Homo sapiens: one gene and its partners. The protein of the gene in region 4 purifies or fractionates together with the protein of the main gene of each other region. This does not show direct contact. Each region holds a gene or a part of one and is shown on either strand. Other genes may lie near its edges.

What was found.
Region 1: the proteins of FUCA1 (region 4) and SUMF1 purify together in Homo sapiens (affinity purification with mass spectrometry; 2 studies listed by BioGRID and IntAct, with this or other methods). This does not show direct contact.
Region 2: the proteins of FUCA1 (region 4) and CHCHD5 purify together in Homo sapiens (affinity purification with mass spectrometry; 2 studies listed by BioGRID and IntAct, with this or other methods). This does not show direct contact.
Region 3: the proteins of FUCA1 (region 4) and PDIA5 purify together in Homo sapiens (affinity purification with mass spectrometry; 2 studies listed by BioGRID and IntAct, with this or other methods). This does not show direct contact.

What each region holds. Positions count from the first base shown.
Region 1 is NC_000003.12:4,360,624-4,366,277, forward strand, and holds the end of SUMF1 (formylglycine-generating enzyme isoform 1 precursor), read right to left. Parts: intron 1,632-5,654; coding exon 1,521-1,631; 3' UTR 523-1,520; downstream 1-522.
Region 2 is NC_000002.12:112,579,928-112,587,622, reverse strand, and holds the start of CHCHD5 (coiled-coil-helix-coiled-coil-helix domain-containing protein 5), read right to left. Parts: upstream 3,015-7,695; 5' UTR 2,976-3,014; coding exon 2,974-2,975; exon of another isoform or gene 2,970-2,973; intron 2,953-2,969; exon of another isoform or gene 2,808-2,952; intron 2,770-2,807; exon of another isoform or gene 2,705-2,769; intron 2,487-2,704; exon of another isoform or gene 2,351-2,486; intron 1,650-2,350; coding exon 1,509-1,649; exon of another isoform or gene 1,499-1,508; intron 1,424-1,498; coding exon 1,258-1,423; coding exon of another isoform or gene 1,090-1,257; exon of another isoform or gene 1-1,089.
Region 3 is NC_000003.12:123,063,019-123,070,048, reverse strand, and holds the start of PDIA5 (protein disulfide-isomerase A5 precursor), read right to left. Parts: upstream 3,025-7,030; 5' UTR 2,885-3,024; coding exon 2,843-2,884; intron 1-2,842.
Region 4 is NC_000001.11:23,844,569-23,851,312, forward strand, and holds the end of FUCA1 (tissue alpha-L-fucosidase precursor), read right to left. Parts: intron 4,272-6,744; coding exon 4,081-4,271; intron 1,606-4,080; coding exon 1,506-1,605; intron 1,288-1,505; coding exon 1,147-1,287; 3' UTR 509-1,146; downstream 1-508. UniProt on the Homo sapiens protein: Alpha-L-fucosidase is responsible for hydrolyzing the alpha-1,6-linked fucose joined to the reducing-end N-acetylglucosamine of the carbohydrate moieties of glycoproteins.

The DNA of each region.
Region 1 (5,654 bases), on a different chromosome or scaffold from region 4:
GGCCTGGCCTACATGACTGCTTTTCAAGGGAATTGTTTTAACATGTTAAGAGGCTAAGCACAAAAGTAGCATTCAAGTGTTGGTTAGACACTTTTGAATATTATTTGATTTAAACATTTCTTTCAAATGGCATGCAAGAAATGGCTTAGGGGTTCTCAGGACTGAGGAATCAGGATGGGAACTTGATAACAGGGACCTTAGGTTGAAAGCTATTGTTCTAAAACAAGGTGCTTTCCCGGCATGGGAAGCAAATGCTGGGTTTTACAAGACCACAAGTGAGGCAGTGCCTTTGACTTGGCATTATCTACTGTGGCAACAAGCAGCAAGGTCATGATAGGGTTACTGGTGGAATAGCCTTGCTTTTTGGAACAAAAATTCCCACAAATTACCCACATATCAAAGTTATCCATTAGCTAACAAACATGAACGTTTTCTAGCAAATAAAACACGCATATCACAAAGTCCTCTCTTTAAAAGAAAACATAAAGAAGAGAAAGAGAAAAGAAGCTGATGACGGTGAAGCCTGATTTAGCAGATACGTTTATTCAACACAGTGCATGATTCAAAGCATCGGATATTCCACAGCCAACAAGGTTTCCTATTCCCTATTACAAAATACCGGATACCCTGAATATAGCTCATTCAAGGTCCTCGTTCCTTTTTCCCTATATCTAGAATTAAACAGGTTTCCCCGTTTAGCGCACATTTCACGTTCGCTGAAGGCTTTGGGGAGAGGGGGAAACAGAGCTTATGACTGCCCCTCTGAACCAAAGGCACTTAATGTTAAAAGATAAAGCACAGTAGAGTCACCCCACAGACATTCCTATGTGTTCAACGGCTGAACTTCAGCATACCATCACCGGCCCCATGTGGGATTCATCATAACAACGTAAAAGACACTGATTTCCTTGGAAAAACAAAGTGCAGTACGAATATAAAGGAGTCACCACACCCCTCTTCCGAAAATAATACATAAGAGAACTCTTACTTTACATGATTAGTATCACTCAAGGTTCACACATGGAAAAAATAGCTAAAAAATAATCTATAATAAATTCTCACTATGAAGTCACAATAGAATCTGATACCCTTTTTAGAACTGGTGAGTTGGAGAGACACCCAGAGGTCATGCTGTCCATCCCTTCATTTGATAGGGGAGGGCACTTGAGGCCCAGGAAGGTCAAGCGTCGGACCTGGGGTCTAACCCCTGTGGCAGAGCCTGCGTAGGACGCGGGCCTCCTGAAGCCTAGCTCAGGGTTCCCTCCACTCCCCTTCCTCTTTAAAGACTCTCAAAAGTAAAATATGGTGATGATCTCCAAAGATGCACCACACCATAAAGCACATGCACTGACCCAGGTCAGCAATTTGGTCTCACAAGGCGGTTCCTTTGGCCATTGGGCAGGTATGTAACCCACCTCAGGGTGGGAATTCTTTGCATGGGATCGTTCAAAGTTCTGAGAAAAGCCCAATGTAGGTCAGACACGACTGCTCCTTGGACTGGGGAAGACTTTCCTTGGTTGTCAGTCCATAGTGGGCAGGCGGTCGGCTGCACAGCGGAATCCCAGATTCGAAGCAGAGCTATCAGGTGTGTTCTGGCTCCGAGCAGCACAGCGATACCTGTAACAATAAGACTGTGTAGAGAGAAAGAGCAAGGTAAGTGCTACTGGGACTCTCAGCTGAAGGCTCTAACCCATCAGATGCATATTGCACCGGCTGTAGACAGTGCTTCCCCACAACCCTGCCTGTATGGATACTTAACATGTATGCTTTAAAAAGGGCAGCACATTCAAGAACTAACCACATATTTTCCAACGTCCTTCACCTTATAAATGTAACACGGATATAGTACAAAGATGTTCAGCATTAGATATAACAGCAAAAAAGAAAAATGTAACAACCAATGATTGCCTAAGTTTAGGCACATCCATATAATAGAAAAGTAAGCAGCCATTGAAAGTCATGTCTTTACATAGTATTTAATGACACAGGAAGTTTTCATGATAAAATGTTAAATGAGGCCAGGCGCACTGGCTCACACCTGTAATCCCAACATTTTGGGAGGCTGAAATGGGAGAACTGTTTGAGGCCAGGAGCTCGAGGCCAGCCTGGGCAACACAGCAAGATCCCATCTCTACAAAAAATTAGCTGAGCATGGTGGTGTGCACTTGTAGTCACAGCTACTCTAGAGGTTGAAGTGGGAAGATCTCTTGAGCCTGGGTGTTTGAGGCTGCAGTACACCATCACTGAGCCACTGTACTAAAGCCTGGGTGACAGAGCAAGATCTTGTGTCCAAAAAAAGAAAAAAAAACAGTTAAAATGAAAAAGGCAGAATATAAAGGTGTATATGTGGTATGACCACAGTGTAGATAACTACATGTGCCAAGAAGAAAAGACTGGAAGATTCCGAATGCACCACAATGTGCACAGTAGTTATCCCTCAAGCAATCTGAGTTTCATGTTTCCTATATGAAACCTATTCAGTATTCCAATACAATAAGAATATATATTAATTTTTGAAATTAAACCAAGTAATAAGTGATAGATGGCCACTGAAAAAATACTAAGAACAACACTAAGACACCATTTAATACCTAAATAATATTTATGATATTATTTATTATCTAAATCATATTTATGATATCATTTAATGCCAGTAGATCGGCAAAAAATTAAACAACAAGTCTAGGAACATCAAACATAGGAAAGGCTGTGGGACAACATTGCTTTTTAAAAATACATTGCTCTTCCATTTCTTTGTATCCTCTTTTATTTCATTGAGCAGTGGTTTGTAGTTCTCCTTGAAGAGGTCCTTCACGTCCCTTGTAAGGTGGATTCCTAGGTATTTTATTCTCTTTGAAGTAATTGTGAATGGGAGTTCACTCATGATTTGGCTCTCTGTTTGTCTGTTATTGGTGTATAAGATTGCTTGTGATTTTTGTACATTGATTTCGTATCCTGAGACGTTGCTGAAGTTGCTTATCAGCTTAAGGAGACTTTGGGCTGACACAATGGGGTTTTCTAGATATACAATCATGTCATCTGCAAACAGGGACAATTTGACTTCCTCTTTTCCTAATTGAATACCCTTTATTTCCTTCTCCTGCCTAATCGCCCTGGCCAGAACTTCCAACACTATGTTGAATAGGAGTGGTGAGAGAGGGCATCCCTGTCTTGTGCCAGTTTTCAAAGGGAATGCTTCCAGTTTTTGCCCATTCAGTGTGATATTGGCTGTGGGTCTGTCATAGATAGCTCTTATTATTTTGAGATACATCCCATCAATACCTAATTTATTGAGAGTTTTTAGCATGAAGGGTTGTTGAATTGTGTCAAAGGCCTTTTCTGCATCTATTGAGATAATCATGTGGTTTTTGTCTTTGGTTCTGTTTATATGCTGGATTACATTTATTCATTTGCGTATATTGAACCAGACTTGCATCCCAGGGATGAAGCCCACTTGATCATGGTGGATAAGCTTTTTGATGTGCTGCTGGATTCGGTTTGCCAGTATTTTATTGAGGATTTTTGCATCAATGTTCATCAAGGATATTGGTCTAAAATTCTCTTTCTTGGTTGAGTCTCTGCCCGGCTTTGGTATCAGGATGATGCTGGCCTCATCAAATGAGTTAGGGAGGATTCCCTCTTTTTCTATTGATTGGAATAGTTTCAGAAGGAATGGTACCAGTTCCTCCTTGTACCTGTGGTAGAATTCGGCTGTGAATCCATCTGGTCCTGGACTCTTTTTGGTTGGTAAGCTATTGATTATTGCCACAATTTCAGAGCCTGTTATTGGTCTATTCAGAGATTCAACTTCTTCCTGGTTTAGTCTTGGGAGAGTGTATGTGTCGAGGAATTTATCCATTTCTTCTAGATTTTCTAGTTTATTTGTGTAGAGGTGTTTGTAGTATTCTCTGATGGTAGTTTGTATTTCTGTGGGATCGGTGGTGATATCCCCTTTATCATTTTTTATTGGGTCTATTTGATTCTTCTCTCTTTTCTTCTTTATTAGTCTTGCTAGCGGTCTATCAATTTTGTTGATCCTTTCAAAAAACCAGCTCCTGGATTCATTAATTTTTTGAAGGGTTTTTTGTGTCTCTATTTCCTTCAGTTCTGCTCTGATTTTAGTTATTTCTTGCCTTCTGCTAGCTTTTGAATGTGTTTGCTCTTGCTTTTCTGGTTCTTTTAATTGTGATGTTAGGGTATCAATTTTGGATCTTTCCTGCTTTCTCTTGTGGGCATTTAGTGCTATAAATTTCCCTCTACACACTGCTTTGAATGTGTCCCAGAGATTCTGGTATGTTGTGTCTTTGTTCTTGTTGGTTTCAAAGAACATCTTTATTTCTGCCTTCATTTCATTATGTACCCAGTAGTCATTTTTGTTCAGTTTCCATGTAGTTGAGCGGTTTTGAGTGAGTTTCTTAATCCTGAGTTCTAGTTTGATTGCACTGTGGTCTGAGAGACAGTTTGTTATAATTTCTGTTCTTTTACATTTGCTGAGGAGAGCTTTACTTCCAACTATGTGGTCAATTTTGGAATAGGTGTGGTGTGGTGCTGAAAAAAATGTATATTCTGTTGATTTGGGGTGGAGAGTTCTGTAGATGTCTATTAGGTCTGCTTGGTGCAGAGCTGAGTTCAATTCCTGGATATCCTTGTTAACTTTCTGTCTCGTTGATCTGTCTAATGTTGACAGTGGGGTGTTAAAGTCTCCCATTATTATTGTGTGGGAGTCTAAGTCTCTTTGTAGGTCACTCAGGATTTGCTTTATGAATCTGGGTGCTTCTGTATTGGGTGCATATATATTTAGGATAGTTAGCTCTTGTTGTTGAATTGATCCCTTTATCATTATGTAATGGCCTTCTTTGTCTCTTTTGATCTTTGTTGGTTTAAAGTCTGTTTTATCAGAGACTAGGATTGCAACCCCTGCCTTTTTTTGTTTTCCGTTTGCTTGGTAGATCTTCCTCCATCCTTTTATTTTGAGCCTATGTGTGTCTCTGCACGTGAGATGGGTTTCCTGAATACAGCACACTGATGGGTCTTGACTCTTTATCCAATTTGCCAGTCTGTGTCTTTTAATTGGAGCATTTAGTCCATTTACATTTAAAGTTAATATTGTTATGTGTGAATTTGATCCTGTCATTATGATGTTAGCTGGTGATTTTGCTCGTTAGTTGATGCAGTTTCTTCCTAGTCTCGATGGTCTTTACAATTTGGCATGATTTTGCAGTGGCTGGTACCGGTTGTTCCTTTCCATATTTAGTGTTTCCTTCAGGAGCTCTTTTAGGGCAGGCCTGGTAGCAACAAAATCTCTCAGCATTTGCTTGTCTGTAAAGTATCTTATTTCTCCTTCACTTATGAAGCTTAGTTTGGCTGGATATGAAATTCTGGGTTGAAAATTCTTTTCTTTAAGAATGTTGAATATTGGCCCCCACTCTCTTCTGGCTTGTAGAGTTTCTGCCGAGAGATCCGCTGTTAGTCTGATGGGCTTCCCTTCGTGGGTAACCCGACCTTTCTCTCTGGCTGCCCTTAGCATTTTTTCCTTCATTTCAACTTTGGTGAATCTGATAATTATGTGTCTTGGAGTTGCTCTTCTCGAGGAGTATCTTTGTGGTGTTCTCTGTATTTCCTGAATCTGAATGTTGGCCTGCCTTGTTAGATTG
Region 2 (7,695 bases), on a different chromosome or scaffold from region 4:
CTTGACACAGGCATAGGATGTGAGCCTTGATGGAGGGGCTCAGGGACCTTGGGAACTTGAAGACAGGGGCGGGAAGTGGGTGGGACATCAGGGAGGTTTTCTGAGAGACGTGCCGTCTAAGCTGGAATAGGAATTAGCCAGGAGATGGATTAGGAAGGGCAGTCCCAGCAGAGGGAAACAGCTGGACAAAAGCAGCGGAGACGTGCACTTGAGTAACTGCATGTTCACTGGGGCTGGAACATAGAGCTTAAGGGGGAAAGAGAGGAGAGGTGGGACCACGGGTCGCAGGGACTGCATCCCACAGGGCCCTGTGGGCTGTGCTGGCATTAAGACTTGGGCTGGTGGAATTGAGAACCATGGAAAGGTTTGTAAGTAGAAGCAGAACATGGTCAGATTTCCTCTGAGATCAGTCTAGGATGATCACCAAGAATGACTGGAAAGTCAAGATGGAGCATGGGGCCCAGGAGAAGGATGGCCAGGTGGCCCAAGAGAGAAGCCAGGGCTGCAGGGGCAGAGAGAGGGCCCCAGGAGAGGGTACTCACAGGGGCTGGGGAAAGATGTGACTTTCACCTTTGGAGCTCACAGTCCAGTGAGGAGGGTAGTAAACATCTAAAAGAGCATTTTTCAACCTTTTTCCGTTACTGCCTCTCCTCAAGGAGTCATTTTAGACTTTTGTTCTAATTGCCCAACCATGAAACTTACATATCACAGATATACTGTATATCTGGTTTACATATTAGATACATTTAAAAGAGTGACCTTTTTTTGGCCACCCCAGCCCAGCCCCTCTGCAGTTGCAGATGAGGAGTAGTGAGAAAGAAGAGAGAGGGTGAGGCAGGAGGCAGATGAAGTCAGCCTAGGGAAGAACACAGAGAACCCAGCAAGGACCTGGACTTTTGTTCTCAATGTGACACAAAGCCACTGGAGAGCTTTAAGCATAGGTGTGATGAGACCAGATTTCAGTCCTTACATGCTCACCCAGGCCGCTTTATGGAGGCAAGAAAAGAGGGAGGAAGGGAGACCAGGGAGAAGGCTGGGGCAGGTATCCTGGAGGTGGAGGGTGAGGGTGGTGGTGGATTAAAGCAGGGGCTATATGGGGCAAGAAGTGATGATGTTCTGGATTCTGGATGCATGGCAAAGGCCTGTGTGGTGATGGGGTGGGGCTGAGGATGACTCCAAAGTCTTTACCCTGAACAACCAGAAGGATGAAGGGGATGTTATGGAGAAAAGAGATGAACTGAGGTGAGCCCCTCTTACCTCCACAGTTGCAGGTGAGCGTGGCGGCTGCACCTGCTCAGCGCACTGCAGGAAGCGGCGCATATGCTCTGCACAGTTGCCCACAGCTGCCTCGTTCTGTCGAAGACACTCCTCGAAGGCCTCAAAAGGCTGAGCACAGGCCTGGCGGATCTGGCGGATGATTGGGCTGTGGGGGTAGGGCAGTTCAGCCCCTGGGAGATTCCCACCCCACTGCCCACCCCCCACACTGTCTCATACTTGCCCGCACTCACTGGGAGGATGTGCACTGGGCAATGCTCATCTTAAGGTAGTGACAGTCCCGCTGCCAGGATTCCGGCTTGGCCGCCACACACTGGCCATACTGCTCCAGCTCCCGGCCACAGTAGCGAGCGGTGACCTCTAGGGCCGCCTGCCTGTGGGACAGGATGGGCTGAGGATCATTCCAGGCAGTAGGCAAGCAAGGGAATTCTTTTTTTTTTTTTTATTTTTTAGAGACAGGGTCTCACTGTGGCCCAGGCTGGAGTGCAGTGGCACGATCATAGCTCACTGTAGCCACCAACTCCTGGATTCAAGTGATCTTCCTGCCCCAACCTCCTAAGTAGCTGGGACCACAGGCATGAGCCACCATGCCCAGCTAATTTTTTATGTTTTGTAGAGACAGGGTCTTGCTATGTTGCCGAGGCTGGTATTGAACCCCTGGGCTCAAGCGATCCCCCTGCTTAGACCTCCCAAAGTGCTAGGATTACAGGCATAAGCTATGGTGCTCCGCAAAGAAAGGGAGTTCTGGTCTGGGTCTGAAGTAGGACTAGGAGTTCAGGGCAGATGTGGGAATCTGAAGGATCCTGAGATGGTGCCAAAGAAGTGGAGAGGTGAGGCCCAGCCCTGGGGCTTGTAAAGCAGGAGGGGAGCTTCTGGGGAGAGAGTGGAGGTTCTAAAACAAAGTCTGATTAATGTAAGGTAGGCCTTCAGGGTCCTAGAAGACAGGCCTTGAAATCCAGGCATCCCCCAGTAGGCCTGGGGATCATGCACAGAAGACTTGGGGCCTTAGAAGAAAGATCTAGAATTCCAGGGAGAGCTTGAGAGCCCTTAATGGGTTTGGGGGTTCTAAAAGTGAGGTTTAGAGCTCCAAGAGGTGGGGTCTCAGGTCCTGGGGAAGAGTGTCTTAGCCAAAGAGTCTTCAAGATGAAACCTAAGGCCCTGGTGCGGGACTCAAGGTCCCAGGGGCGTGAAGTCTGGAAGCCCTGGATGAGGTTGGTGCTCTGGGAATCCTGGGCAAGGTCAGAGTGGTCTAGGAACAAGTCTGTGGACCCTATAGGTGAGGACTGGGGTCCCAGGCAGATCTGGAAGGTTCAAAAGGTAAAGTTTGGTGATCAAGGGGGAGGAACCTGGAGCTCTGAGGATGGGTGTAGGAGTCATAGAGGTCCCTAAATAAGTCTGTAGTCTTAGGATTTCAGTGTGAAGGCCGGACCTGGGGTACTGGGGGCAGAGATTGGGTGAAGAGTGACTGGACCGAAGTCCTAAGCAGCGCGAGAGGGGGCGAGGCCTAAACGCTTAGAGGGCGGGGCTTGGGCATGCGGAGGGTTGGAGCTCGTGAGCGAAGGCGCTGAATCCTGAGGGTCAGATCTCCAAGAAGGAGGGAGGCTGGTCCTAGTTCCCGAGGTCCTAGACTAGGTCTAGATCACTGGGTAAAAGAAGGGGAGCGGCAGCACGTATGGGGTAGGCGCTCTCACTACTCACATCTCGAGACCTTTGCCGGCGTAGGGCTGTCCGGGGGGAACGACCCGCCTTTTCCGGTATCGGTTGTCATGGCGGCGCCCAGCCCAGCCTGGTTTTTTCCGGTAGCCAATTGAACTAACAACCCCGTTCCCTTTAGGACTAATCTGTCACGGCGGCGCCCTACCTCTTCTTCCGGCCCGGCTCGTCATGGCGGCGCCCTGAGTAGCCACTTCCGCCCTCTTCTGGCTAAATTGCTTCATCCCTATTTCCGGCTTGCCATGGCAGCGCTCGGGGTTTAACGGAAGTAAGCAATGGAAAGTATGGTGGTGCCTCGGGTCCAAAGAGAATGCGCCGCTGAGTTGCGCGGCACCTGACGGGATTGAGCCTCAGACACAAGCGCTCCAAATCTCCGACTGTAGCTGGTGGGAAGCGCCTGCTGTTGCTGCAGCGTCTCAACATGTTGTTCCCATTTTCGTTGGGTGCTGTAGCGGTAGGCTGTTGGGCTCAGGGATAGGGGGCCTGATTCCTAACGCCGCGCTGCCACCATCGGCCTTGCGCAGACGCTGATAATCCCCCTGGCACCCAGGTTCATGCGAGCGCTTGGAACAGGAGGGAAGAGGGAGTCAAACCAAGAGCCGAACTAATTCGGCTTGGGCCTGCCATTTACCCAGCCTGGGACCCAGACGTTTCCCCATCCCTTAGCGTACGCCAGGACAGACATGGCGTTTAATCCTGACTCCATGAGACTATCAAGCTAGTTACTTCCTCTCTTTGTAATTAATTCCTCCTAATGTAGCAACATTTCCCCCTTCCTTCTCATCTGTCTTAAAAGTGTGAGGTTAGACCTGGGCGTGAGTTTCCCCACATAAGAGACTGGATATCCCCTGGTCAGAGAACTGAGCATCAGTCCTGCCGTTTCGTTTGCAGATCTTTCAAGACTCTAGTCAAAATGAGCAGAACATTTTGCAGTTAATCATAGAGTTGAAGATGAACGAGAAGATGAACGAGAGCTACTTGATTGTGAACTAGTAACGACCACTTGGAGTCGCAGTGTGTCTGTAAAATGATGATGACAGTGACATCATAGAGGACATAGTGCAAGTGAACAGTTTGATACTGAGCTTGGAGCCTCAGTAGTTCTGGATAAGTGAGAGCTGTACGGGAGGTTGTAACCATGAGCTACCCTGGTTGGCAGTTGACATCCGAGGACCAGCACTGGTCATCGCACAGAAAGAAAACTTTACACCTTGAGATCCCTCCATTCTTCTTAAACTTCCAAGTGTATGTTTGATGGGAGAAGAGGGGAAGGGATCAACATTTAAAGGCTCTGGAAGGAGTCAGATAACTGTTTTTGGCTTCAAATGTAGAATGAATCCCTAGATTTTCCTCTACTGAGAGAATGAAATCTTAACCCATTCCGTTCCCTTGTTGGTACTCAGAAACGGATACCCCAAAGATGCATTTTGACATGCTGAAAGGCCTTAGAAGCTGCCTTAGAAGATCTGTCTAACCTTGTCTTGTTGGTGTGTGGAAGTGGGAATGCCCACAGGTGCACAGGGAGGGAGTTTCTGAAATTATCTGACCGAGAAAGCAAAAAAAAAAAATCAATTGTCTTAAACCCGGTTTCTAGGGATCTCATTAAAGAACTAGGAAAAATTAACCACCTGTTAACAGAAAAACCAAACTGAAATGTTTTAAAGAGATTTATTTTGAGCCAATATGAGTGACCATGGCCTGGGGAACACAGGCTCAAGAGGTCCTGAGAAAGTGTGCCTGAGACAGTAGAATTACAGTTTGGTTTTGTACATTTTAGGTGGACAGGAGTTACAGACAAAGACATAAATCAGTACATGGAAGGTACAGATTGTGTTCAGCTGGGTGCAGTGGCTCACGCCTGTAATCCCAGCACTTTGGGAGGTCGAGGTGGGCGAATCGCTTGAGGTCAGGAGTTCGAGACCAGCCTGGCTAACATGGTGAAACCGTGTCTCTACAAAAAATACAAAAAATTAGCCAGGGATGGTGGCAGGCACCTGTAGTCCTGGAGCTACTCAGGAGGTTGAGGCACGAGAATTGCTGCGGAGGTTGTAGTGAGCCGAGACCACACCACTGCACTCCAGCCTGGGTGACAGAGCATGACTCTGTCTCAAAAAAAAAAAAAAAATTCTACGGTATTTTTATAATACATTTTGTAGTACCACTTATAACCACTTGGGTGCGTGGGTTGCCCATTAAATCAAACAGTTTACAGTTCACCCTTGAACAACATGGATTTAAACTGTACTGGTCCACTTATACTCAGATTTTCTTCTGCCGCTGTCACTCTGAGACAGCAAGACCAACCCCCCTTCCTCTCCTCAGCCTACTCAATGTGAAAAGGACAAGGATGAAGGCCTTTATGATGATCCACTTCCACTTAATGAATAGTATATTTTATCTTCCTTACGATTTCCTTAATAACAGTTTCTTCTCTCTACTTTACTATTGCAAGAATACAGTATATAATGCATATAACATACAAAATATGTGTTCATCTATGTCATCAGTAAGACTTCAGATCGACAGTAGGCTATTAATAGTTAAGTTTTGGGGGAGTCAAAAGTTATATGTGGATTTTCTACTGCATTGTTTAAGGGTCAACTGTAGATTCAACGACTACCTAGGATTGTAGAGTTGACTGATAGCACTGGGACTGATGATAACATCATAACCTGTAAGAAGTGTCAACAATGGTGATGGACCCCCAGCAACCCTGGAGTGGGGATGTCTAAAGATAGATGTCATCCACCAGGCAGGAGTTGGTGCTGCCAGTGTGTCATGTACTGCAGCCTCTTTTATTTATTTATTTATTTTTATTTATTTTTTGAGACAGCATCTCGCTTTGTCACCCAGGCTGGAATGCAGTGGCACAATCTCGGCTTACTGCAACCTCCACCTCCCGGGTTCAAGCGATTCTTCTGCCTCAGCCTCCCAAATAGCTGGGACTACAGGTGCGCACCACCACGCCAGGCTAATTTTTGTATTTTTAGTAGAGACGGGGTTCCATCATATTGGCCAGGCTGGTCTCAAAGTCCTGACCTCGTGATCCGCCCATGTCGGCCTCCCAAAGTGCTGAGATTACAGGTATGAGCCACAGCGCCTGGCCTGCAGTCCCTTTTACTACAACAAATATGGGAAAGAGTCACAGGTGTGGCATACGGTGGTGGCTTCTGCGTTAGAAACATAGGCCAAGTACAGTGGCTCATGCCTATAAATCTCAGCACTTTGGGAAACTGAGGTGGCCAGACTGCTTGAGCCCAGGAGTTTGAGATCAGCCTGGGCAACATGGCGAAATTCTGTCTCTACAAAAAGTACAAAAGTTACCCGGGTGTGGTGATGTCATAGGTAGTAGATTTATCCTTCAAACATCAACAACTAAAAAATCTGGACAAAATAGGAGACAACAGAGTTCAGACATTGGAAACAAGCATTGTAGCACAGTGGTCCCCAAGAGAAAGGAGACAAATGAAGTGACCTTAGTGGCCCGGCTTATGTCTGGAGAGTTAGTTTCTAGGCTACATAGCCCAGGGGTGTCCCTGAGTTGGGACAAAGTTGAGAATTTGGAGAGGCCAAGGCAGCTAGTTTGTAAGGCAGGGTACCAGAGAGTAGCGCAGCACAGACCTGCAAAGGGTTTCCTGCACGTGTAGCGCACAGCATGCCTGTGAACACACTCCTGGAAACCAAGGGAACTACCAGGAAGGTGCAGGCAGAGCAATCCCCGGAGCCATAGTGGAGACCATCACTGTGCACTGGCTAAACTACTCAAAGATACTGCCTGTCTAGTGAGGCAAAATTAGCCCTAATGGCCGCTCTGGTCTCACCTAAGTAAGCTCAGAAACACTGAAGCAAGCTCTCAGTTCGAAGGAAAATGGAAATCTGGCATATGAAATCAAGATCTCCAGATACAGTAAATATAACTCTTATGACAAAATAGCACAAAGGCCAAGAGACAGGAAAGTGTGTGCTGTTGCTAAGTTGTTCTACTACCTGTGAAGTGGTAGAATATTACATAAAAGTGTGACAAGTCTAAAGATGTACACTAGAAATTTTAAGAGAAACAACAAAAAATGAAAATGGAGGTAGGGTTAATAAGCCAACAAAGGAGATAAAAATGAAATAATACAAAATAAATTAGCCCCGCACAAGTATGGCCATCTGATTTAAACCCTGTCACTCCAGCTGGAGTGCAGTGGCGTGATCACGGCTCACTGCAGCCTCGACTCCCAGGCTTAGACGATACTCCCACCTCAGCCTCCTGGGGAGCTGGGACTACAGGTGCACACCACCATGCCTGGCTAATTTTTTTAGTAGAGATGGGGTCTGGCTGTGTTGCCCAGGCTGGTCTCAAACTCCTGGGCTCAAGCAATCATCCCACTTCAGCTTCTCAAAGTGCAGGGATTACAGGCGTGAGCCAGTGCACCCGGCCTATGGCCATCTGATTTTTGACAGAAGTGCAGAAGTAATTCAATAGAGAAAGGATCGTTTTCAAGTAACAGTCCTGGAGCAATTGGATATCTATTGGCAAAAAAAAAAAAAAAAAAAAAAAAAAAAATCTTGATCTAAACCTTACACTTTGTACAAAAATGAACTCTTAAGTGGAAAATGGATCATAGATTTAAATATAAAGCATAAAACTATAAAACCTTTAGAAAATAACATATGAGAAAATCTTTGGGCTAGGTGAAGAGTTCTTAGACACAACACCAA
Region 3 (7,030 bases), on a different chromosome or scaffold from region 4:
GCGCGATCTCAGCCCACTGCACCCTCTGCCTCCTGGGTTCAAGCGATTCTCCTGCCTCAGCCTTCTGAGTAGCTGGGACTACAGGCGCCCGCTACCATGCTTGGCTAATTTTTGTATTTTTAGTAGAGACGGGGTTTCACCATGTTGGCCAGGCTGGTCTCGAACTCCTGACCTCAGGTGATCCACCCGCCTCAGCCTCCCAAACTGCTGGGATTACAGGTGTGAGCAACTGTGCCCGGCCAGGACTGAGTATTTCTGTCATTCCCCTGAAAATTCATATGTTAAAATCCTAACCCCCAAAGTGGTGGTGTTAGGAGGTGGGGCCCTTGGTACGTAATTAGGTCATGAGGGTGGATCGCTCATGAATAGGATTAGTGCCCTTGAAAAAGGGACCCAAGAGAACTGTCTAGTCTTCTTTCTATCATATGAGAATACAGTGAGAAGTCAAGAGTCTTCTGGAGGAGGGTCCTCACTAGAATTCAACCATGCTGGCACCCTGATTTCGGACTTTTGGTCTGCAGAACTGTGAAAAATACATTTCAATTGTTCTACACCACCAGTCTATGGGATATTTCTTATAGCAGGCCAAACTGAAAAAGATAAATATCACTTTCCATGATATGGACAAGGCCAGATATTATTTAACCATGCCACTATTATTGAGCATTTAACCCATTTCCACATTTTGCTATTGTAAAAAATGTGGTGGGTGTATATCCCTGTACACGAATCCCTGCAGATGCCTTTATACCCTTCAGGTCACAGCCCAGTCCTGTGCACATATCAGCCCTCAGTAAATATTGAGTGAACAAAGAAACCCAACCGGCTTCCAGGAACCTGGGGAGCACTTATCAGATAGATACAGCATTTAAATTTACAAAGACCCAACGCGCTGTCCAGCAATCACTCACCACTGCTCCTGTTGGCATGCTCCCTCCACCTCCTACCCGCTAAGCCAACTCTAGGGCTTAGGGAAAGGAGAAGATAGAAATTGCTTGCTCAGGACTCCCAGGTTCTAGTGCTTTCAGCAAACCTACCTGCTCTTCCGCACCTCCTGGTGAAGGGGACCTGCAGCCCTCCACTGCCTAGCTAACTACCACACATCTTTCAGACTCTGTTCAACCCTACCACCTCAGGAAAGCCATGGCTGACCTCCCTTTAAATCAACGTATGGCTCCGGTTCAGTGAAGGATACTAGTACTTAAGGTCACAGCACTTGCAGTTCTGTCATTATTTGCTCACAGGACTGACTCCTTTGCCCAATCCAGGGCAACACCAGACGGCAGGTACAATGTGTGTTTTGCTCTCCGCCCAAAATCTAACCCAGTGGAGGGCAAAATATCAATCCAAACAATGTGATTGACAAATAAATGTCTGCCGAATGAAATTTCAGATTCTCAAGCCGTTTGTTTTCACAAAAGGGAGGGGAAAGGGAGGAAAGCAGGACCTCCTACTCAGCCCAAGTGCAAAGACCGATGGGGGGCGTTTCAGGAGATAGCTCCCTCCTCCTGGCCCAGAGACCCGCCCAGACCAACTGGCTCCAGGGAACTGATGGCAAACCAGCATTCAACAAACCCAGACGCAATTAAGTGACACTGCCCCACTCCAGCCTGGTTCTCCCCAAGAGGGAGAACACAGACCGAAGAGAACAGGGGGCTTCTTTCCCCACCCACTTCCAACCAGAGAGTACCAGGCCACTCCTCACTGGTGATCCAAAAGGCCAGGGTATTGGGAGATGGAAGTGTTTCAAGCAACTCAACCCACACTTTTCTCCTCCCATTTGCCCAGTGTCCTTGCCACACCCAAATGGAAAAGAACGGGAAAATCTGGGTTGGGGGGAGGGTGCCAGGAACAGGAAGTTCCCTGGAACTTCAGGGGAAAAGGACCAGGATGGTCCTAAAATAAGGGAGCGCATAAGTTATGGAAAAGATGGGGAAGGAGGCCACAATATCTCATCACACACCCACAGCGAAACGAAGGCCAAACCCCAGACCTGGGCCGGCAGGCACACCCATTCCGACCTCTCTCAGGGATGCCTGGAGTCCCCCCCACCAAGTGTAGCAAACTACTCTTGGAGTCCACTCCTTTTCCACTTTTGTAAGATTTTGCAGTTTACACAGCTTCCTCCACTGAGACCTCATCCGACTCTCAGAACCACCCTATGGGGGTAGCTTTGCCTTTCTATATCATGCATGAGGAAACTAGCTCAGATACATTAAATGAACCGCCGCGTCACACAGCTAGAAAGTGGCTGAGGCTCGAGCCCGCCTCAGTTGGGTGTAGGAGCAGCTCCTCCGCCGGGGCGGGCTACGTCGACCCCACCCAGCCCACCGAGCCTGGCCTGTGGGCGGAGGCCCAGGTGGTGGCCCGCAGTTTCCCAGACGCCTGGGGCCGAAGCCAAGAACAAGGTGGCCCTAAACCAAGGTTTCCGGCAGTGCAGGTAGTAAGCACCCCCATCCCACCCCGCACTCACACAGGTGCAGGGCTCGGAGTCTGGAGCGGAGCTCACCCCGCAGCCCGCCGGCGTCCTGCCCGACCGGCTGTGCCCCGACCTGCATCCCCGCAAAGTTGTGGCCGTGGCGTAAGCACCCTGCCAGGGATCTCCCGGCGCCCCACAGCTGCCTCCTGCCCCTGCGTCCGGGAGCGCTTGGCGGCGAGGGCACCGGGACGCCCGCTGTCTCCCGCGTAGCACCCAGTGCCCGCCTGCCTGGCATGCACGCCCTCATCCCGGTGCCCCGGGGCAGCTCCCCGCACGTTCCGCAGAGGGCTGGAGCAGAGAGCGCAGAAGGGCACGCGGGACACACGTGCTGGCCCGGCCCGGATCCCTGCCCCACAGTCTCACCCAGATTGCCAGCAGCAGCCACGCCGGCCCGGCCCGCGCCATCCCAGCAGCGCTGCCCACCGCTGGCTCCTTTCTCCACTCCGGCGCCCGCTCCCGCCCGCCCGCCTGCTAGCTCCACCGCGGCCAACCACCACGGCCACTTCCCAGCCGCTCCCCGCCTCCGAGTTCCCGGTGCCACGTCTGCCAAAGCATGCGCAGCAGCTGGGGAGAGGCGGCCGGGAAGAAGTGCTCGCTGGGAGTTGTAGTCTGCAGCCTGGCTCAGCTGGGGGCTGCGGGTGCGGACTGGGCTCCGAGGCCACGTGGCAGCGAGTGAAGTGCGAAAAGGCAAGGTCAGGGAGTAAGGGAAGGCAATTAATGAGCGGGGGCTTACTCTGTGCCTGGAGCTTCAGAAACAGTATCTCACGCAGCTCACAGAAATTAGGTTTTATTTTCTCCACTTTGAGGATTAGGAGGCAGCGCAGGGAATTTAAGTACGTTGATCCAGATCACACAGCCGGTAAATGGCAGAGTCCAGGGCTGCCTGTGAAGGACAGGAAAAGCCCTCATCCCTGCCTCCCAGACTCCCTCCTGCTTATTCTATTTAACTTCAGTAAAACATTATTGAGCTGTTGGAAAACAATCTGGTGGTTCCTCAAAAAGTTAAACATAGATTACTATATGACCAGCAATTCCACCCTTAGGCTAATACCCAAAAGAATTGAAAACAGGTATTCAGACAAATGCACGTACACCAGTGTTCACAGCAACACTATTTACAATAACCAAAAGGTAGAAACAACTCTAACGTCTGTCAAAGGATGAATGGGTAAACAAAGTGTGATACATCCATCTAATGGAATGTTATTTAGCCATTAAAAGGAATAAAGTGGCCCAGCAGGGCAGCTCATGACTGTAATCCCAACACTTTGGAAAGCTGAGGCAGCAGAATCGTGTAAGACTAGGAGTTTGAAACCAGCCTGGGCAACATAGCAAGACCTCATCTCTGCTAAAAATAAAAATAAAATAAAATAAAATAGCTGGTGTGGTGGCAAGGGACTGTAGTTCCAACTACTTGGGAGGCTAAGGCGGGAGGATTGCTTGAACCTGGGATATGGAGACTGCAGTGAGCCAAGATCATGCCACTGCACCCCAGCCTAGGCCACAGGGTGAGACCCTGTCTCAAAAAAAAAAAAAAAAAAAAAGGTGGGGGGGAGAGAATAAAATGCTAATACATTCTACAATGAATGAATCTCAGAAATGTATGCTAATGAAAGAAGCCAGACACAAAAAGTCACATATGATGTGATTACATCTTATGAAATATTTAGAATAGGTAAATCCACAGAGACAGAAAGCATAGTAGTGGGGGTGGGGAGGAAGGAATGGGGAATGACTGCTTAATGAGTATAGGGACTCCTTTGGGAGTGATAAAACATTTTGGAACTAGATGGAGATGATGGTTCCACAACATTGTGAAGGTACTAAATGCCACTAAACTGTACACTTTAAAATGGTTAATTGATGTTATGTGAATTTTACCTGAGTAAAAATTTTCAAAAGAAAAAAACTCTTTATTGAACCCATTCCCTGTGCTAAAGCAGGGGTCCCCAAACGCTGGGCCTCTGGACAGTCTGTGGCCTGTTAGGAACCAGGAGGCAAGCTGTGGGCCAGCGAGCATTACCACCTGAGCTCTGCCTCCTGTCAGATCAGTGGTGGCATTAGATTCTCATAGGAGTGTGAACTCTATTGTGAACTGCACATTCAAGAAATCTAGGTTGTGGGTGCCTTATGAGAATCTAATGCCTGATGATCCGAGATAGAACAGTTTCATCCCAAAACCATCCCCTGTCCCCCCACCATCTGTGGAAAACTTGTCTTCCACAAAACCGGTCCCTGGTGACAAAAAGGTTGGGCCCTGCTGTGCTAAAGCATTCTTGCATGCAGTCAGTTCATACATTCAAGAATGTTTATTGAACACTTACTATGTCCTGAGGCTCAAGATATCCAGTAGTGAGATGAACAAGAGAACAGCACAGTCAGAGGTTGGTAAGTTATAGCTGAAAGGTCCTTGCCTTCTGTCAGGAGAGTCAAAGCTCAAAACTTAGAAGTTATCCATTACTCGCTTCCTATTCACAACAGGCCCATCCAACCCCTCACCACATCCTGTCAATTTTACCTCCAGAATATATCTCTCCTGCCACCTCCCAAGTCTAAGTGACTATCACCTAGGGAAGGGTAACAGTTTCTGAAAGAGTGTGCCTGCTTCTCCCCCATGCCATCCATATGTTAATGTCAGTTGGATCTTGCTTGCCCCTCCCCTGAAACCCTCCAGTGGTTTCCCATTACCCTTAGAATAAAATCCAAACTCTTCCCAAGACCTGCAAGCCCTGCATGGTCTAGGCCCTCGCCCGCCCGGTAGACCTCATCTCCTGCCTCCCACAACCCCTGTCCACTGGGTCCAGTTACACAGACCATCATTTCCTCACCCCTCCCCTCTCCAGAGCTGCTCCTGCCTCAGGGCTTGTGCTCCTCCCATTCTCTTTGCCTTGGCAATTTCCTTGGCCTTTGTCTGGCTGGCGCCTTTGTATCCTTCAGGGTTCTCCTATCTATCCCCTCTCAGAGATGCCCTTCAGAGCAGCCCATCTACAGGTGAGTTTACCCTCCCCACTGCCAAGCTCCTTTTTCTCTATCTCAACTTCTGCTTAGGTTCTGTTGCTTCTTTGCCCAGCACCTACCAAAACCCACAAGACTTACTGAGTCCTTGTGTTCATTGTCTCTTGCTCCAACCTGAATGTCAGTTTCCTGTCCCTCTGTTCATCACCTTGCTTCCAGGACCTAGCACAGGACGGAGCCACAGATGGTTCTCACTGTTCTTTTTGATGAATGACTGAATGATTGAGCTAAGTAATGTGTTGGGAAGTGTCAGAAATTCCTAAAGCAGTTTGGGGACAGGGCTTCCTTGGCATGCTCTGCTCTGCAACCTCGAACTTATGACCTGCACATGGGAAAGTGAGATTTGCACCCCTCTCTGTGGGTCTCTGTTTCTCATCTGTCAAATGAAGCAGTTGGTGAGGATGCAGAGCTACTGGAACACTCACGCATTGCTGTGGGAGTGTAAATTGGCTCACCTACTTTGGACAACTGTACATGTACAAAATCTGAGCCAAAATGTTCATGGCAGCTTTATTCACAGAAGCTGTTATGGACTTGTGTCCCCCCCAAATTCATATGTTGAAGTCCTAACTAACCCTTACTACATCAGAATATGACCGTACTTAGAGCCTTTGAAGAGGTAATTAAGGTTAAATGAGGTCATTGTGGTGGACCCTAATCCCATATGGCTGGTATCCTTACAAAAAGAGGACAGTAGGACACATATACAGAGGAAAGACCATGTGAGGACACAGAGAGAAGACAGAATGGCCAGTGACACGCCAAGGAGAGAGGCCCTCAGAAGAAATCAACCCTGCCAAAAGCTTGATCGTGGATTTCTAGCTTTCAGAATAATAATAATAATAAAAAACAACCTCTGTCATTTAAGCCACCCAGCCTATGGTGGTCTGTTACGGCAGCCCTAACAAACTGATACAGTAGCCCAAACTGGAAACAACCCAACTGTCAGAACAGGAGAGTAGATAAATTAGCGATAGCATATTCTGCAAAAAAGAGAGACAGAGAGAGAGAGAGAGAGAACAAACTCCTGATAATATGCAACAACGTGGATGAATCTCAAAACCCTGATGTTGAGCAAAAGTAGCCAGACACAAAATAATATGTACTGTATGATTCCATTTATCTGAAGTTCAAGAACAGGCAAGTACAATCTGCCTGTTCGATAAAAGAAAACAAGTGGATGAGGAATAGAGACGGACTGTGGGGAAAGCATGAGCAAACCTTCCAGGTACTGGAAATGCTCTGCATCTTGCTTTTTTGTTTCTCTGTTTTGAGACAGGCTCACTCTGCCACCCAGGCTGGAGTGCAGTGATGCAATCTCACTCACTGTAACCTCCATCTCCTAGACTCAAGTCATCCTTCCACCTCAGCCGTCCGAGTAGCTGGGACCTCAGGCTCACACCACCACACCGGGCTAATTGTGTATTTTTAGTAGAGACGGGGTTTTGCTATGTTGCCCAGGCTGGTCTTGAACTCCTGGGCTCAACTGATCTGCCTGCCTTGGCCTCCCAAAGTGCTGGGATTACAGATATGAGC
Region 4 (6,744 bases):
GGTGGATCACTTGAGCCCAGGAGTTCGAGACTAGCCTGGGCAACATGGTGAAACCCCGTCTCTACAAAAAAAAAAAAAAAAAAAAAATTAGCTGGGCATCGTGGTGTGCCTATAGTCCCAGCTACTTGGGAGGCTGAGGAGGAAGGATCACTTGAACCTGGGAGGTGAAGGTTGCAGTGAGCCGAGATCACACCACTGTACTCCAGCCTGGGCAACAGAGCAAGACTCTGCCTCAAAACAAAACAAAACAAGATTTCTAAACATATCTATTAAGGAAAAATTAAATAGAAAACTTGATTAGATCTCTAACAAAGAGGCTGAACTGGTAGTCAATTCAGAAGAATGGTATTAGAAGTGAGAAGCAGAAAAAACACAGGAATTACATTTTTTGTTCAGTGTTAAGGAGATTTTGCAAATCTCCTTAAAAAAAAAACACACACAAACCAGAAACTGATCTTAAAGCTATAAGCAGTATAAGTTGAAACTAGGAAAAGAAAGCTATACCATGTTTTTTTGGTAGAAATGATTGTGATGTACAAATTTTTTATTTGATCATACTTAAAAAGACAGAGCAGAATCACATTCATTTTCTTAATAGTATCACTGTAAACATAGCGAATTTTGGCGCTTTTAGATTGCTCTGAAAATTTCTGAAGAGTTGACCATAGCAGCCTGGTAAGCCTTTTCCTTTCCCCCAAAGCTCTCCTGCCCTTTGCAGAAAGACTGTTGGTGACAACTGATGCTAACTAAATAGCATGTGGTTGAGCTTGCCAAATCCTTCCACCTCCTCCCATAGGCAACAGGGTGACTTGGCTTAAAGGCATTGAGTAAGCAAGTAGGTTATCAGAGAACAGAGGGAAGATTCCATTGTAGATAATTTCCAAATATTACAATTGATGAACTCAGAGTTCAACTGCTCAGTTCCTTCTTCTGCTGACCTGATACAGATATAATCACAATGGATCTCAGATCTTTGGTCCATTTAGACATCAGGGTAATGTACTCAGTTCCTTTAATTAAAATGTGTTGGAAAAGCCATCTCTGGGTGGAGAAGAGAAGTTCGTTGATTATAGTGATGGTACTATAAGAGAAAAACTGAAGCAGGAAAACAGTGAGCAGCGCCTCTTTCTTCTTGCACTCAAATGATTACTTCACTCCTGTCAGCTTTATAGTCCAAGCAAACTCTGCGGGGACAGCAGAGGGTGGCAACTGGGGTAGAGAGATGAAGAGACCTTTATCTGGATCTGTGGACCACTTCAGATCTCCTTGAATTCCCAGCATTGTTATCTGCAGAAAACAAAAGGGAATGAAACAAACTGGTAATGCACTAATGAGTATAGAATACAGGCTGACTATGGTAGGAAACAGCCACGCTGGGCCAGGGCAGGAAAGCCAGTCTAAAAGAGGTGTGAATATGGGAGAAACCTGGCAGGGAAGGAAGAAAGGAAGGATCTGCCAATTCCTTTACAGAAAGTTACATCTTAAGACTGACTAAGCCTCTTTACCTTTGTAGTTGAGGTAGTTATGGGGGATTCAAGGTTTAAGACTCCATTTTCTGGCCAGTGCAGAAAAATGGCATAAACAGCCGATCCCTTTGAGGTATACCTGGGAAAACAGAAACAACACTGTCAAAGATACCTGACTTGTTATCCTGATATACAACTTTATACATTTCCTCCTTTTTAATGTTAATTTTCTTTTCTTTTCTTTTTTTTTTTTTTGAGACAGAGTCTCCCTCTGTTGCCCAGGCTGGAGTGCAATGGTGTGATGTTGGCTCACTGTAACCTCCGCCTCCTGGGTTCAAGCAATTCTTGTGGTTCAGCCTCCTGAGTCACTGGATTACAGGTGTGCACCACCACGCCTGGCTAACTTTTGTATTTTTAGTAGAGATGGCATTTTGCTATGTTGACCAGGCTGGTCTTGAACTCCTGGCCTCAAGTGATCCACCTGCATTGGCCTCCCAAAGTGCTGGGATTACAAGTATGAGCCATTGCACTCAGCTCCTTATTTATTTTTTTTTTGAGACGAAGCCTTGTTGTCCAGGCTCTTGTTGTCCAGGATGGAGTGCAGTGGCGTGATCTTGGCTCACTACAACCTCCACTTCCCAGGTTCAAGCAATTCTCCTGCCTCAGGCTCCTGAGTAACTGGGATTACAGGTGCCTGCCACCATACCCTGCTAATTTTTGTATTTTTAGTAAAGACGGGGTTTCGCCATGTTGGCCAGACTGGTCTTGAACTCCTGACCTCAGGTGATCCACCCGCCTCGGCCTCCCAAAGTGTTCGGATTACAGGCGTGAGTCACTGTTTTGGGCCTAATTTCTTTTTTTTTAAGTGATGGAGTCTTGCTGTGTTGCCCAACACAACTTGCTGTGTTGTGCTGGGCTCAAGTGATCCTCCCACCTTGGCCTTAGAAAGTGCTGGGATTACAGGCATGAAGCACTGCACAAGGCCACTCATTCCCCTTTCAATTATCTACCAAATCCCAGTCCTCGAGTCTGTCACTGTTACTAGGGAGCACCAATAACTCAATACCAATGAAGGTGTGCAGGAAGGAGGCAGTCTATAAAACTCTATCTGGTGATACTATCTATTTTCCCTACCAATTGGGTTAAGTTGTCTTTAAAAATTATCTCCTACATCAGTTACTGCAAATAAATAGAGCCATTTACCTTATTATTCAAATCTCTTTTCTATTCCAAATCCATGTGAAAATAGCAGAGACTATAACAAGGACAAGACATGCAATGAAAACAAATTTGTTGTTCAGAGATTTCTTTTTTTTTTTTTCTGAGACTGCACCCAGCCTGTTCTGAAATTTCACTATGTTTAGAGAAGAGGATGAAAATCACTACTATGGTTTGAATGCATCTCCCAAATCTCATGATGGAAACTTAATCCCCAAATTCATATGTCGATGGTATAGTATTTAGAGGTGAGGCCTTTGGGAAGTAATTAGGATCATATAAGGTAATCAGGGCAGGGCCCCATGATGGGACTGATGGCTTTATAAAAGGAAGAAAGACCTGAGTGGACATGCCCACTCTCATCCCCAACCATGTCATGATGTAGCAGGAAGGCCCTTACCAGATGCTGGTGCTATGCTCTTGAACTTCCCAGCCTCCAGAACTGTGAGCTAAATAAACCTCTATTCTTTAAAAATTATCCAGTCTAAGCCAGGTGCAGTGGCTCATGCCTGTAATCCCAGCACTTTGAGAGGCAGAGGCAGGTGGATCACTTGAGGCCAGGAGTTTGAGACCAGCCTGGCCAACATGGTGAAACCCCATCTCTACTAAAAATGCAAAAATTAGCTGGGCGTGGTGGCGGGTGCCTATAATCCCAGCTGCTTGGGAGGCTGAGGCAGGAGAATTGCTTGAACCTTGGAGGCAGAGGTTGCAGTGAGCTGAGATTCTGCCACTGTACTCCAACCTGGGTGACAGAGTGAGACTGTCTAAAAAATAATAATAAAATAAAATAAAAATCCAGCCTGTGGGATTCAGTTATAGCAACAGAAAATGGACTAAGACAACCACTAAACAGAAACTCATCCAAAACAGAGGGATTAATAGAGGGATTAGATCCAGAGACCTAAGCTCTCTGGTATAATAAAAGCAGTTCCCTTTAATTGAACACTGAGTTTGTGCCTGGCACTCATCTCATTTAATCCTCACAACACTATAAAGCATCATCACTCCATTCTGCAGTGGAAAAAATGGGGCCCAAGATCAAATAACTAGATCCAGAAGTCCAAGTATGAATGGAAAGAATTTTGGATGGGGCTCCGTACAATCCAAGCATTCATTATTACTATTTTTAGGGGGCAGGGTAATAATCTCAATAAATTGACTGATGCTTTGTTGCTCCTTCCCTTTTCACCAAACCCACTCTCTCCCTTCACTAGTCAAAGATAACCAAGTAGCCTGAGACATAACTCAAATGGGGTACAAATTTTATAGGAAAATAACCTTCTGGATTTTCTCAAGGCAACTTCCAGCCTGGCTTGTGACATTGTGGACCCAAGGAGATACCAGTTCCGGATGGGGCACTGTTCTGTTCTTACACACAACAGAAGACAAGACTCACCATACAGATGTTGTGTTCTTTTCCCATTGCACCCGCCATGGTTTGGAGGCATAGATAGCCTCCCCATTGATGCTCAGCCATTTCCCAACAGCAAGAAGCCTTTCTTGGAAGATGGGAACAATCAGTCCATCTTTAGTTGGTCCAATGTTCAGAAGATAGTTGCCTCCCAAACTTACTGTCTGAACCAGTTCCTGGAGAGAACAGAAACAATGAAAGTCTAGCTATGAATGCCAAGCCTGGCATCATGCTTAAAATAGACAGAGAAGAAAAAGAATCTAGGGCACACTCTGTTTTTTAAATATCCTCTGCTGTTTTAATTTTTTTTTTTTTCTTTTTGAGCTGGAGTTTCACTCTTGTCGCCCAGGCTAGAGTGCAATGGCGTGATCTTGGCTCAACTGCATCTCGGCTCACTGCAACCTCCACCTCCCTGTTCAAGCGATTCTCCTGCCTCAGTCTCCTGAGTAGCTGGAATTACAGGCATGCGCCACCACATCCAGCTAATATCATTCTATTTTTAGTAGAGACAGGGTTTCACCACGTTGGCCAGGCCAGTCTCAAAACTCCTGACCTCAGGTGATCTGCCTGCCTTGGCCTCCCGAAGTGCTGGGATCACAAGCATGAGTCACCGCACCTGAGCTAAAAATTCTCTCTCTATATATATTTTTGTCACTATAAAAGCAGGTTAGGCTCATGTGAGTAAATGAAAAATCAGGCTATATTATATTAACTTGAATTTCAGGGAGTGGCCATGGAGCACTTCCTGTGACACTGTACTTCTCATGGTGCTGAGTGCAGTGGGAAGGGTCATGCCCCAGAAACATGAGGTGTGGGCAGGGAAGCTGAGAATTTCAGGACATTCCTTACGCATTGGGCTATATAAATGAACATGCTGCCCCTTTGGGAAAACTGCTATAAAGAGATACGTTCTTTTTTTTTTTTTTTTTTTTTTTTTGAGACGGACTCTTGCTCTGTCTCCCAGGCTGGAGTGCAGTGGCACAATCTCGGCTCACTGCAACCTCCGCCTCCTGGGTTCAAGTGATTCTCCTGCCTCAGGCTCCCGAGTAGCTGGGACTACAGGTGCGCACCACCATGCCCAGTTAATTTTTGTATTTTTAGTAGAGATGGGGTTTCACTATGTTGGCCAGGCTGGTCTTGAACTCCTGACTTTGTGATCCACCTATCTCAGCCTCCCAAAGTGCTGGTATTACAGGTGTGAGCCACCGTGCTCAGCCAAGAGATACATTCTTTAAGACTTCTGGAGTGGGATTTGGGTGTGTGTGTTTTTACTGTGACCTTGAACAGGTATTATACATATCCAGGCAGCTCAGAAAAACTAAGGTTATATAGAGAAAATTTTAAATTCATTACAGAATTTGAAGAATTCAGACAGGCATGGTGGATCACACCTGTAATCCCAGCACTTTGGGAAGCCAGGACAGGTGGATTACCTGAGGTCAGGAGTTTGAGACCAGCCTGGCCAACGTGGTGAAGGCCCTGTCTCTACTAAAAATACAAAAATTAGCTGGGCACAGTGGTAGGCACCTGTAGTCCCAGCTATGCGGGAGGCTGAGGCAAGAGAATCACTTGAACCCGGGAGGTGGAGGTTGCAGCAAGCTGAGATCGTGCCATTGCACTCCAGCCTGGGCAACAAGAGCGAAATTCCATCTCAAAAAAAAAAAAAAAAGAATTAAAGAATTCATTATAAGAATTCATTACAGTACTCCAAGTGACACCACACCATTAACTTTTGATGTCTTCTTCTAGTCTTTTTCCTATGTAGTTAATTTTATATAGTTGTAATAATATGTAACTTATTTTATTTATTTATTATTATTTAAAAAAAATTTTTGTTTCAGACGGAGTCTAGCTCTGTCACCCAGGCTGGAGTGCAGTGGCGCAATCTCAGCTCACTGCAACCTCTGCCTCCTGGGTTCAAGCAATTCTCCTGCCTCAGCCTCCTGAGTAGCTGGGATTATAGGCATGTGCCACCACGCCCAGCTAATTTTTTTTGTATTTTTTAGTAGAGACGGGGTTTCACCACATTGGCCAGGATGGTCTCGAATTCCTGACTTTGTGATCCACCCTCCTTGGCCTCCCAAAGTGCTGGGATTACAGGTGTCAGCCACCGTGCCTGGCCACTTATTTTTATTTTTTAAAATAGAGATGGGGTCTCACTATGTTGTTTAGGCTGGTCTTAAACTCCTGCCCTCAAGCAATCCTCTTGTCTTGGTCTCCCAAAGTGTTGGAGTTACAAGTGTGAGCCACCACCATGCCCAGCCAATATGTAACTTTATTAAAAATAATAATAATAATAGAGATGGGGTCTTTCTATTTTGGCCAGGCTGGTCTTGAACTCCTGGCCTCAAAGGATCCTCCCACCTTGGCCTCCTAAAGTGTTGGCATTACAGGTATGAGCCACTGTGCCCAGCCAATATGTAACTGTTTTTTCATTCAGTGCTCTAAACATTAACCCATATTAAATTTGTCAACATTTTTATGGTTACCAGGAGTTCGAGACAAGCCTGGCCAACATGAAGAAACCCTGTCTCTACTAAAAACACAAAAATAAGCTGGGCATGGTGGCACGTGCCTGTATTCCCAGCTATTCGGGAGGCTGAGGCAGGAGAATTGCTTGAACCCGGGAGACGGCGGTTGCAGCAGACC